Linked DNA regions of Homo sapiens. The protein of the gene in region 2 purifies or fractionates together with the protein of the main gene of each other region. This does not show direct contact. Each region holds a gene or a part of one and is shown on either strand. Other genes may lie near its edges. The genes, in order: NPR2, CHID1 and MAN2B1.

What was found.
Region 1: the proteins of CHID1 (region 2) and NPR2 purify together in Homo sapiens (co-immunoprecipitation; one large-scale study listed by IntAct). This does not show direct contact.
Region 3: the proteins of CHID1 (region 2) and MAN2B1 fractionate together in Homo sapiens (co-fractionation; one large-scale study listed by BioGRID). This does not show direct contact.

What each region holds. Positions count from the first base shown.
Region 1 is NC_000009.12:35,801,495-35,805,140, reverse strand, and holds part of NPR2 (atrial natriuretic peptide receptor 2 isoform 1 precursor), read right to left. Parts: intron 3,508-3,646; coding exon of another isoform or gene 3,499-3,507; coding exon 3,378-3,498; intron 3,216-3,377; coding exon 3,141-3,215; intron 2,936-3,140; coding exon 2,858-2,935; intron 2,639-2,857; coding exon 2,534-2,638; intron 2,410-2,533; coding exon 2,338-2,409; intron 1-2,337. UniProt on the Homo sapiens protein: Receptor for the C-type natriuretic peptide NPPC/CNP hormone. Has guanylate cyclase activity upon binding of its ligand. May play a role in the regulation of skeletal growth.
Region 2 is NC_000011.10:900,703-904,348, reverse strand, and holds part of CHID1 (chitinase domain-containing protein 1 isoform a precursor), read left to right. Parts: intron 1-570; coding exon of another isoform or gene 571-645; intron 646-1,237; coding exon 1,238-1,387; intron 1,388-2,018; coding exon 2,019-2,151; intron 2,152-3,368; coding exon 3,369-3,413; intron 3,414-3,646.
Region 3 is NC_000019.10:12,656,743-12,660,388, forward strand, and holds part of MAN2B1 (lysosomal alpha-mannosidase isoform 1 precursor), read right to left. Parts: intron 1,772-3,646; coding exon of another isoform or gene 1,769-1,771; coding exon 1,686-1,768; intron 1,603-1,685; coding exon 1,482-1,602; intron 1,400-1,481; coding exon 1,321-1,399; intron 814-1,320; coding exon 704-813; intron 315-703; coding exon 207-314; intron 1-206. UniProt on the Homo sapiens protein: Necessary for the catabolism of N-linked carbohydrates released during glycoprotein turnover. Cleaves all known types of alpha-mannosidic linkages.

The DNA.
Region 1 (3,646 bases), on a different chromosome or scaffold from region 2:
GCTACTAATTAGGAAGACATGACTTGAGACCCAGGTATCAAGAGTAGCTGGATATACCAAGGAAGACCAGTTGTAAACTTTAATGCATAACCAGGCGTAGGTGGGCAAGTCGGGGTAGAGGAGGAACAAGATCTACTAGAGGGAGGTGGGCAGGTCGGGGTAGAGGAGGAACAAGATCTACTAGAGGGAGGTGGGCAGGTCGGGGTAGAGGAGGAACAAGATCTACTAGAGGGAGGTGGGCAGGTCGGGGTAGAGGAGGAACAAGATCTACTAGAGGGAGGTGGGCAGGTCGGGGTAGAGGAGGAACAAGATCTACTAGAGGGAGGTGGGCAGGTCGGGGTAGAGGAAGAACAAGATCTACTAGAGGGAGGTGGGCAGGTCGGGGTAGAGGAGGAATAAGATCTACTAGAGGGAGGTGGGCAAGTCGGGGTAGAGGAGGAACAAGATCTACTAGAGGGAATGCTGGATCAGAGAGAAAGTGCAGAACATCATAAACCTGGAAAATGGACAAAATCTGCTAAGCCAGTGCAGAAGCCTAAAACTGCTGGCTCTGTGGGTCCAGAGAGGGAAAAACCTTTGCCTCCGAGGAGCTGAAAGACAGTCTTAAAGGCCGGGCTCAGTGGCTCATGCCTGTAATCCCAGCACTTTGGGAGGCCAAGGCTGGCAGATTGCTTGAGCCCAGCAGTTCAAGACCAGCCTCAGCAACATGGCGAAACCCCACCTCTACCAAAAATATAAAAATGAGCCGGGCACTGCAGCACACGCTGTGGTCCCAGCTACTCAGGAGGCTAAGATGGGAGAATCACTTGAGCCCAGGAGGTCGAAGCTGCAGTGAGCAGTGACCTAGCCACTACACTCTAGCCTGGGTGACAGAATAAGACCCTGTCTCAGAAAAAAAAAAAAAAAAGTCTTAATGATGCTCCCCAAAAATGAAACCCTAGGAGCCACCCAAGTCAGTTCAGGTGAGACAGAAAGAGGATACAAGGTTCAATATGCTAACAAAAAACATTTCTGTCTAAATGTTTAGCTCTGGACTTAATTCATAACTCTAATCTCTATGAATTCTTCCTTTTTATTTATTTTGGTATCAACAAAACTTTTGGGAATCTCTGAAGTTGTGAATTTACTTGTGTGGAAACTGTGCAAAGGATGCCTTCAACAATCACAGGATTAGGCTTCTGGCTTTGTTGTAAATCACTTTTCCACCAAATCACTGTTCTCTCAAGAGTCGTGTCTTATGTTTATCATCACACCTCTAGTTGAGCATGACATTGGCTTTACTAATATTTTTATCTCTCATTTGATAGCAAATTTTCACACACAAAAAAATACTTTTTAAATAACTTCATGAGAATTCAGCAGAAAACCAAAGCTAGTTTCAGATACAGTGTGGGGTGATCCACTGGGATGCTCATTGGCTATGAGACTTATTTCAGAAAACCTGTCCAACTCATGCAAGATTCTATTTTATGCTCCACAAATCCATGGGCCTCTGAGTCATTTGAACATAGCTAAAACCTAGTATAACAGAAGAGTACCAAAGGTTTTTAGTACAATCTTCCTTGGTTTCTCTTAGTTCTACTAGTAAATGTTCCTTTTTTAAATTTCAGTTTTCTGAACAAAAGGGCAGACATGCCAAATATTGGTCAGAGAGTAAAATAATGAGAGGAAAAACAGGAGATAAATATGTTCGGAGAGTAAAATAATGAGAGGAAAAACAAGAGATAAATATGTTCAGGCCGGGCGCGGTGGCTCACGCCTGTAATCCCAGCACTTTGGGAGGCCGAGGCGGGCGGATCACGAGGTCAAGAGATCGAGACCATCCCGGCTAAAACGGTGAAACCCCGTCTCTACTAAAAATACAAAAAAATTAGCCGGGCGTAGTGGCGGGCGCCTGTAGTCCCAGCTACTTGGGAGGCTGAGGCAGGAGAATGGCGTGAACCCGGGAGGCGGAGCTTGCAGTGAGCCGAGATCCCGCCACTGCACTCCAGCCTGGGCGACAGAGCGAGACTCCGTCTCAAAAAAAAAAAAATATGTTCAGAGACTCCACTCATTTTATGAGTTCTTAGAGGTAAAAGAGATGATGGAAAGAGACCTGAGATATTTAAGACAGAAAGATAGAAACTCTCTACAGGCACAGGACTCCTTGTGGCAGGTAAAACTCACTGTCCCAGTTATAAGCCCCAGACTCCTTGTTTACCCATTATTACCAGACCATGGGAATAAGGGGAGATGAGAGAACAGGACTTCAGAGGACTAGAAGGAGAAAAACCACAATCAAAGAACAGTGGAAGTGATTTAAAGTGGATGAACTTTTAAGGAGTGGGGAAGACTCACCTTAACAAGGTCATTAATGAGTGAATAACGAAACATCCAGTCCAAGTTGATGCTGTCATTTTCTAGAATATCCTGGTAAGTGACATGGAATAGACTGTCTGTCCTGGTCCCACCAGCTATCACCCAGCATAGAGTCAGTATAACTTTGGGTCTATCCTTCCCACCCCTGCCATAATCTCCTACACCTATCCCTCACCTGTAAACTCCCACGAGGACAGTATTCAGTGACAATGCAAATGTTGGGAGGGTCTATGCAGGCGCCAATGAAGCGAGTGAGATGGTTGAACTGAACATCTCTCATCTGGCAGAAAAAAACAATGGGAAGGATAAGAAAATTGAAAGAGTTAAAAATTAGATACAGAAACTTACCACTACATAAGAGGACCTTTCTCTTAGTTGTATCTACGATTTTAAAATCATTTATAAATCAACCCCTTGCCCATCTAGCCAATTTTACTATTTCATAGTTTTCCCCACTCCTCCATTACATACATGTTAGAGTCCATCCTCTGTTACATACATGTTTGAGTTCAAACAGAACCTGCCGGGTCAGCTCAATGCGCTTCTTATTCACATGTTTGATGGCGACAACATTTCCCTGATGGTGGGAGTGAAAGGGGAAAGGAAAGTGAATATCAGAAGTTCTGGGTACAAGGAAATGCTAGAGAGCAGTGGAAGCACCCAGGAGCTCAGCTGGGCACAGAGAGTCGGGTATGAGGGACAGAGGTTCAGGGGCAGAGGTGGCAGATGGGGATGAGACAGGATGAAATGGTGGGGACCAGAACAAGCAAATGACTGTTCACCTTGAAGTGACCGGTGTTGGCAAAGATCTGGTATTTCCCATGGGCTGTCATGAGCGAGCCGTAACTGGATCCCCGCTGGGGCCAAGGGCAACATGGAGGCGGAAGGATGAAAGGAACATTAGATGATGGTGGTAGTGCAGGGGCTATCATTACAAGCCAATGTGCTGGGAGAGATCCAGGGTAAGAAGGGACAGGAACTCAGAGGGAGGCAGAGGAACAGCTGAGACAAGGGCTCACCAGCGACAGTGTGAGGCGACTGCCTGCACCTTTGTGATAACGCTCTGAGTTGCCAAACTGCAGTTCTTCCCAGCGAATACGCCACAACATGCTAGCCAGCTCCTTCTCCAGCATCAGCTTTCTGTAAGGACTGCACACCTCAGTTGACTGGCAAGCCGAATCCTGCCACCCCCAAGCCAACAGCAGGGTTGCAGGGGCTTCCCTGCAGCTCCTGAAGCTGCAACTGTTACACCTGAGAGACAGGGCTGGAAGATAAGGCTGCATTCTCG
Region 2 (3,646 bases):
GCCTCATGCTTTTTGGGACGTTCCCCTGGGATGGCCCTGGGGATTGCACCTTCAAGGGTGTAAACTCATAGAACCACCTCTCAGCCCCAGCAGTCCCCATGCCGCTGGCCAGACCCTGCCACAGGACTGTAACTGTGACCTAGTCCTGGACTGGCAGATGCTTTCTCTGTGCTGTATGGGGGCAAATAAACCATGCAGTGGACATCTCTCTCTCACGGGGCCGCTTGGGGCGAGGTCAAGGGGAGGCTGAGCCGGGCCACAGAGTGTGGACAGAAGAGACAAGTTGATAACTGGATGGAAGGTTTCCAGGAGCAGAGGTGGAGTAGGGGCAGGTGTGACATGGCAGGAAAAGACTCGCATTGGCCAGGGGGGTGGCAGGCAGTGGTTGACCAGCAGGGTTGCATTGGTGGGGGTGGTGGCAGGCAGTGGTTGGCCAGTAGGGTCGTATTGGCGGGGGCGGTGGCAGGCAGTGGTTGGCCAGCAGGGTCACGTTGGCGGGGGCGGTGGCAGGCAGTGGTTGGCCAGCATGGTGGCGTGTGCCTGGCATGTTCTTTTCTTTTTTTTTTTGAGGTGAAGTTTTGCTCTTGTTGCCCAGGCTGGAGCGCAATGGCGCGATCTTGGCTCACCGCAACCTCTGCCACCCAGGTTCAAGCGATTCTCCTGCTTCAGCCTCCCGAGTAGCTGGGACTACAGGTGCCCGCCACCATGCCTGGCTAATTTTTGCATATTTAGTAGAGATGGGGTTTCACCATGTTGACCAGGCTGGTCTCCAACTCCTGATCTCAGGTGATCCACCTGCCTCGGCCTCCCAAAGTTCTGGGATTACAGGCGTGAGCCAATGCACCCAGCGCACCTGGCATGTTCTTGTCCAGCAAAGCGTATGGCCCTGGAGTGCCCGGATGGGTATCGAGTGGCCAGAGCTGGTGCAGACCGTCCACCCTCACATGCAAGGAGGGAGCCACCATAACTGTCTGTCTGCCTGCCTGCCTTCCAGCCCGGAGCAAGGGTGGGAAAGGCCCTGTACCGTCGGCCAGTGTCTGTTGACGGCCAGAGTGCTTCTGAATTGAATTGCCTGCTGTGGCCTCGATCCTCAACATACAGGGTCTCCGGGTCAGCAGCACTGTGTGGATCCAGAGACTCGGCTGCTGGCTGAATGGAAGGGACTTGCTGGGTGGGGCTCTGTGCTCTACACTGTGGACAGATGACTGAGGCTTTTCTCTCACTCCTTTTATTTCAGAGTCAGTTTTCAGATAAGCCGGTGCAAGACCGGGGTTTGGTGGTGACGGACCTCAAAGCTGAGAGTGTGGTTCTTGAGCATCGCAGCTACTGCTCGGCAAAGGCCCGGGACAGACACTTTGCTGGGGATGTACTGGGCTATGTCACTCCAGTAAGTTGGGGCCCTCACAGTGCAGAGGGAGGTCCTGAGGCTCAGGTGGGCTGCCCTGGCCCCGTGATGGCCTCTTCTGGCCAGTCAGTGATGGGGGTCTATGTTCTGATCTCCCGGAGCTGCTGCTGCTGTGAGGCTACGGTGGGAGAGATGCCATTCTGGAGATGTCAGAGTGTAAGACCCTGGGGGTCTCTCCAGGGGCTTGCTGTGCTGATCTCTGTGGGTTCCCCCTGAATCCAGAGGTGGGCTCGCAGGTCGTCTGGGGTCAGGAAGTGGATGTGCAGAGCCAACCCTGGGCCAGGGAGGGGTGGGTTCTCACACCCAGCCTCCTCTTCTCTTGCTGTTCCCAGCTGCCAGCCTGCAGCAGTGGTGTGCACTAGCTCCAGGTGGGGCTTAAGACAAGCACCAGTCACTTTTGGTGAAAGGGATGTCGTGGCCTGGGTCCCAGGCTGTGAGTGGCAGTCCAGAGTAGGAGAAGGATACCCCAGGCCAGGAGCTGATGTCAGTCCGGGCTGGTATCTGTCTACGCTGGCCAGCCCTGGGCACGTCCAGAGGCGCCAGAATGACAGCACCATGGTGAGACAGGTGCTCACTCACCTGTCCTCCGTCTGATGTCTCCATCTTTTGCCAGTGGAACAGCCATGGCTACGATGTCACCAAGGTCTTTGGGAGCAAGTTCACACAGATCTCACCCGTCTGGCTGCAGCTGAAGAGACGTGGCCGTGAGATGTTTGAGGTCACGGGCCTCCACGACGTGGACCAAGGTTCTCATCCTTCCTGCTTGACTGTGCTTGCCCCACAGGCTGAAAAGAGTGTGAGTGCGAGAGCAGGGGTGTGTGTGTGTGAGTAGGTATGTCTCTGTGGGTGTCTCTGTATGGGAGTGTGTGTGTGTCTCTGCGTGATTTAAGTGTGAATGTGAGTGTGTAAGTGTGAGACTGATGATGTGGGAGAGAAGAGATTGTGAGTGTGTTGAATGTGACTGTCGGTGTGGACATGTCTAAGTGTGAGACAGTGGGTGTGAGTGTTGAGTGTGGTGACTGTGAGAACCACGCCCTCACCCCTTGGGGCCCAGCCGGCAGAGCAGGCCCATGGTGTGGGCTGGTGTGCTAAGTGGGAAGGTGAGTGTGGAGCAGGGCAGGCCTGGTAGAGGGGGTTTCTGAGGTGGTCGCCACGGTGGGACCCTCTGCAAGGCCAAGTTGGTGCCTCAGAGTGTTCCGCCCAGGTCTGCGTGTGGTCCAGGTGGCTGTGAGGGTGGCCTTCCCTTGCACTTCCGGGCTGCACACAGGCGTGTGCAGGACAGGCTCTACAATGACTCAGGCAGCCTCTGGGCAGCAAACGGCACGGGCCATTGGCTTCTCCTCCTCTGTCCCTCTCTCAGCGATTTTCATTCAATGCCAGGGAGGAAGGTGGGGTTCAGGCGGAGGCTGCCTCCTGATGGCACATCCTGACCTGATGACGTCTGCCCGAGTTTACGTGGCTGCGCCTTGCGTTTGGGCTCGGACAGAGAGAAATGGCAGGGGAAGTGTTAGGCAGTTTTGGAGTTCAGAGAGCAGGAGTGGTTTTCCCTGACACTGAGAGAACCGTGGGGAGGTGATGGAATGTCAGCCAGTGTCAGGGCCTGGCGGGTCTGGCCATCCCTCAGCTCGGAGAAACCCTGACCGTCCCCAGGCCCTAGGATGCAGCTGCCTGTTCCCCTGGCCGGCCACAGGCTCTGAGCTGTCCCAGCTCAGGGAGGGTAAGCTCAGAGCTGCTCTGCAGGGTCAGGAAGGGGGCCTTGGCCAGAAGGGTGGAGAGTTGGGGTCAGGAAGAGGGTGTGGAGAGCCAGCCCTGGGCCAGGGAGGGGTGGGTTCTCACACCTGCCTGCCCGCCCCTGCCCTTCCCATTGCGTATTGTGCGGCTGCCACGTTTTCCTCCTCAGGTAGGCTGGGTCTTCCAGTTGGGCGCACGTGCCTGTGTTGACTGTCCCCTCCATGTCCCACAGGGTGGATGCGAGCTGTCAGGAAGCATGCCAAGGGCCTGCACATAGGTAAGTGCGGCAGGCCAGGAGTGGAGGCCCTGATGGCTCAAACTGCGGGGGTGGACAGGTGGGCACTGGGGTCTCCACGTGTTCCTGATCACCCGGCTGTGCTGCTGCGGCACAGGTTACTTTGACCGCTCAGAGATGAGGCTGGCCCTGGCCTGGCATTCACAGCCCTTAGTCTGGCTGGAGTCCTGAGCTCTCCTCCCCACACAGGCTGTGGCCCTCCAAAGCCAGCACCT
Region 3 (3,646 bases), on a different chromosome or scaffold from region 2:
ACCCACTTTGCACAGAAACACCCCTGGCTGGTCCTAGTGTGGTCACGGCACTTAAGGCCAAGCCCCCTCGAGATGCGTTGTTCTCTCTGCTGACCCAGCTTCGCAGCCCACGTAATTTCACTCCTGTATAGTCCTCCAAAAACATTTTCCAACTACCCCCTCTAAAGCCCATCTGCCCTAGATCCACCCCTCCCGTCCCGGCTCACGCGCGCCGCCGTCTGGCTGAGCGGGCAGATGCTGATGTTTAGCTGTTGGCAAAAGGTGAAGTGATCTTTGAAGCCTCTGAGCCGCGCCAGCGCGTTGCTCAGAAGAACCTGCGGAAGAGCGCAAAGGGACCGGTGGGTTCAGGACGCCAGGCCTGACTCCTCCCCTCTCCTCAGGCCCCGCCCCGTTCCGGTCTCTGTCCCGCCTCCCTCAAGAGTCGCCCCAAAACCCCTTCTAGCCCCACCCTGCTGCCCTTGACTATACCCCATAGCTGTCTCCGCCTCCTCTTGCCCACGCCCCGCCTCCTTCCCCCCTCCAAAGCCCCGCCCCGTTCCTGTATCTTTCCCCGCCTCCTACAAGCCCCGCCCCCACGAGCCCTTGTAGCCCCGCCACAGGGCTCTCGGCTACGCCTCACACCTGTCTCTGTCCCCTTTCCCAGGCCCTGGCCCCGCCCCTTCCTGTCTCCACCCCCGTGTCTCCCAAGTCTCGCCCCGCGCACCTCGCAAGGCCCCCAGCCTGCCGCAAGCTGGCGCGCGTAGTCGTTGGCCACGTGCTGGCGGGAGGTGCCGCTGACGGCGTCGTGATGCTGGAGCACAGCCATCGCCTCATCTGCTCATAGACAATGAGTCCGGTGAGGTTCTGTGGGACTCAGCTGAGACCCCAAGGGGAAGCGAAAGGTCCGGTGCTGGCGGGCAGGATTCTTAGAGGCTTTAAGAAGGAACTCGAGGACGGCTGGGGGCGGTGGCTCACGCCTGTAATCCCAGCACTTTGAGAGACCGAGGCGGGCGGATCACGAGGTCAGATCGAGACCATCCTGGCTAACATGGTGAAACCCCGTCTCTACTAAAAATACAAAAAATTAGCCGGGCGTGGTGGTGGGCGCCTGTAGTCCCAGCTACTCGGGAGGCTGAGTCAGGAGAATGGCGTGAACACGGGAGGTGGAGCTTGCAGTGAGCCGAGATCGCACCACTGCACTCCAGCCTGGGAGACAAATCGAGACTCCGTCTCAAAAAAAAAAAAAAAAAAAAAAAAAAAGAAGAAACTCGAGGGGGGCGGCCTAGGGGTGGTTTCCAACTTCAGCCGCAAACCTCTTCCCCTCTTGGGCCCGACACTTACTGAGGGGTGCACTGTCTCCGGAGCCATAGGGTCCCACGTTGGCCGCCAGGCCCACCAGCGCCTCCAGCTGGTTGCACACCTGGAGGCAGAGGGGTATGTTGGGGCGCCCAGCCTGTCGGGCCTCGGGGCTGCATGCCCCCTCTAGCCCGGCTCCTACCCACCTGCAGGAAGTTGTAGCTGAGGCGCTCGTAGCGTTTGAGGGCCGGCCGACTGGAAAAGTAACCGGTCCAGAACTGGTGGGGGCCATCCGCGTAAGGGAAGAAGTCGTCATGTTTCACTGACCTACAGCGGCAGGGGCATTGAGGGCAGGGTCATGACCCACGGGGCATGCCAACCCCCCCAAGCTCCCCAGTTTCCCCAAATACCAGGTGAGGTTGGCCTTGTTCAGCTCCCAGAGGTAACAAGCGGGGGTGGAGTAGAGAACATGGACACTGCTTCCTTTTGCCTGCTGCTGGGGGAGGCGACGGAGTGAGCCCTCGGGAGTCCGCACCTTCCTGGGGGCCCACACTTCCACACATGTGTGCACATTCATGCATCCCATAGGTTCAGTTTCTCTAAATACATATTTGGCGTGCAAGCCAATGGTTGGGTGTGAAAATGAATTTTGGCTGAAGTCAAACATGACCACTAGCCTTTTTTAAAAGGATTTCAGAGATGCAAGAATAAACCTGAAATTTTACTAAACTTTTACAATAATTCCAACTTTATTATTAAAAACTTTTGTGGAAAAACTAAGTGTGACATTATAGGGCAGGAATAATCGTTTTGCAGGACTGTCAGATTGTTACCAAAAAACACAACTTTTTTTTTTTGGGACGGAGTCTTACTTTGTTGCCCAGGCTGTAGTGCAGTGGCTCAATCTCAGCTCACTGCAAGCTCCACCTCTTGGGTTCACGCCATTCTCCAGCCTCAGCCTCATGAGTACCTGGGACTACAGGTGCCCGCCACCACACCCGGCTAATTTTTTGCATTTTTTAGTAGAGACGGAGTTTCACCGTGTTAGCCAGGATGGTCTCGATCTCCTGACCTCATGATCCGCCCGCCTCAGCCTCCCAAAGTGCTGGGATTACAGGCATGAGCCACCGTGCCCGGCCTAGACACAATTTTTATAATGAATGGAGGTGCACTTTCACCTGAGCAAGGTGGAGGAACAAGAAAGTGACCTATGTGAGGAAAAGGATGTTTGTTTTGCACGAGCTGTGTCCCCCAATGTACACAGTAGGTGCTCAATAAACTTTTTTTTTTTTTTTTTTTTTTGAGACTGAGTCTGACTCTGTCGCCCAAGCTGGAGTGCAGTGGCACGATCTCAGCTGGCTGCAAACTCCGCCTCCCAGGTTCCAGCGATTCTCCTGCCTCAGCCTGCCGAGTAGCTGGTCTTACAGATGAGTGCCATCACGCCCACCTAATTTGTAGTATTTTTAGTAGAGACAAGGTTTCACCATGTTGGCCAGGCTGGTCTCCAACTCCTGTCTTCAAGTGATCCGCCCACCTCAGATTACAATCCCAACACTTTGGGAGGCCAAGGCGGACGGATCACCTGAGGTCAGGAGTTTTGAGACCAGCCTGGCCAACATAGTGAAACCCTGCCTCTACTAAAAATACAAAAATTAGCCAGGGTTGGTGGCACATGCCTGTAGTCCCAGCTACTTGGGAGGCTGAGGCAGGAGAATCACTAGAACCCAGGAGGCAGAGGTTGCCATGAGGCAAGATCATGCCACTGCACTCCAGCCTGGGTGACAAAGCAAGACTCTTGTCTCAATAAATAAATAAATAAATAAAATTTTAAAAAGAAAAAATAAATAAAAATAAATGACATAAAAGAGCTGTTTTGGTGAAATAGCAGTGCTGGGAGCGAGTGGAAGGTGGGAATGGAGATTGCACCGTAGTGAGGACAAGATTGATGGGAAGGGGTGTCTGAGATGGGAGAGGGGAGACAAGTTTCTGTGCTGATGAGAGTGACTGACTGTGCACACAGCCACAGCCACAGGCCACTTAGTGCAAAACACTAACACATCTGTGTTGGGTAAAATGATAACTGCCCAAAAGTGTCCATGTCCTGATCCCCAGAACCTATTACCACATTAGATTACATGGCAAAAGGGGAATTAAGGTTGCAGATGGAATTGAGGTTGTTCATCAGCCAAACTTAAAGTAGGGAAATTAGGCCACACAGTGGCTCACATCTGTAATCCCAGCACCTTGGGAGGCCGAGCGGGGTGGATCACGAGGTCAAGAAATCGAGACCATCCTGGCCAACATGGTGAAACCCTGTCTACTAAAAATACAAAAATTAGCTGGGCGTGGTGGCACGCGACTGTAGTCCCAG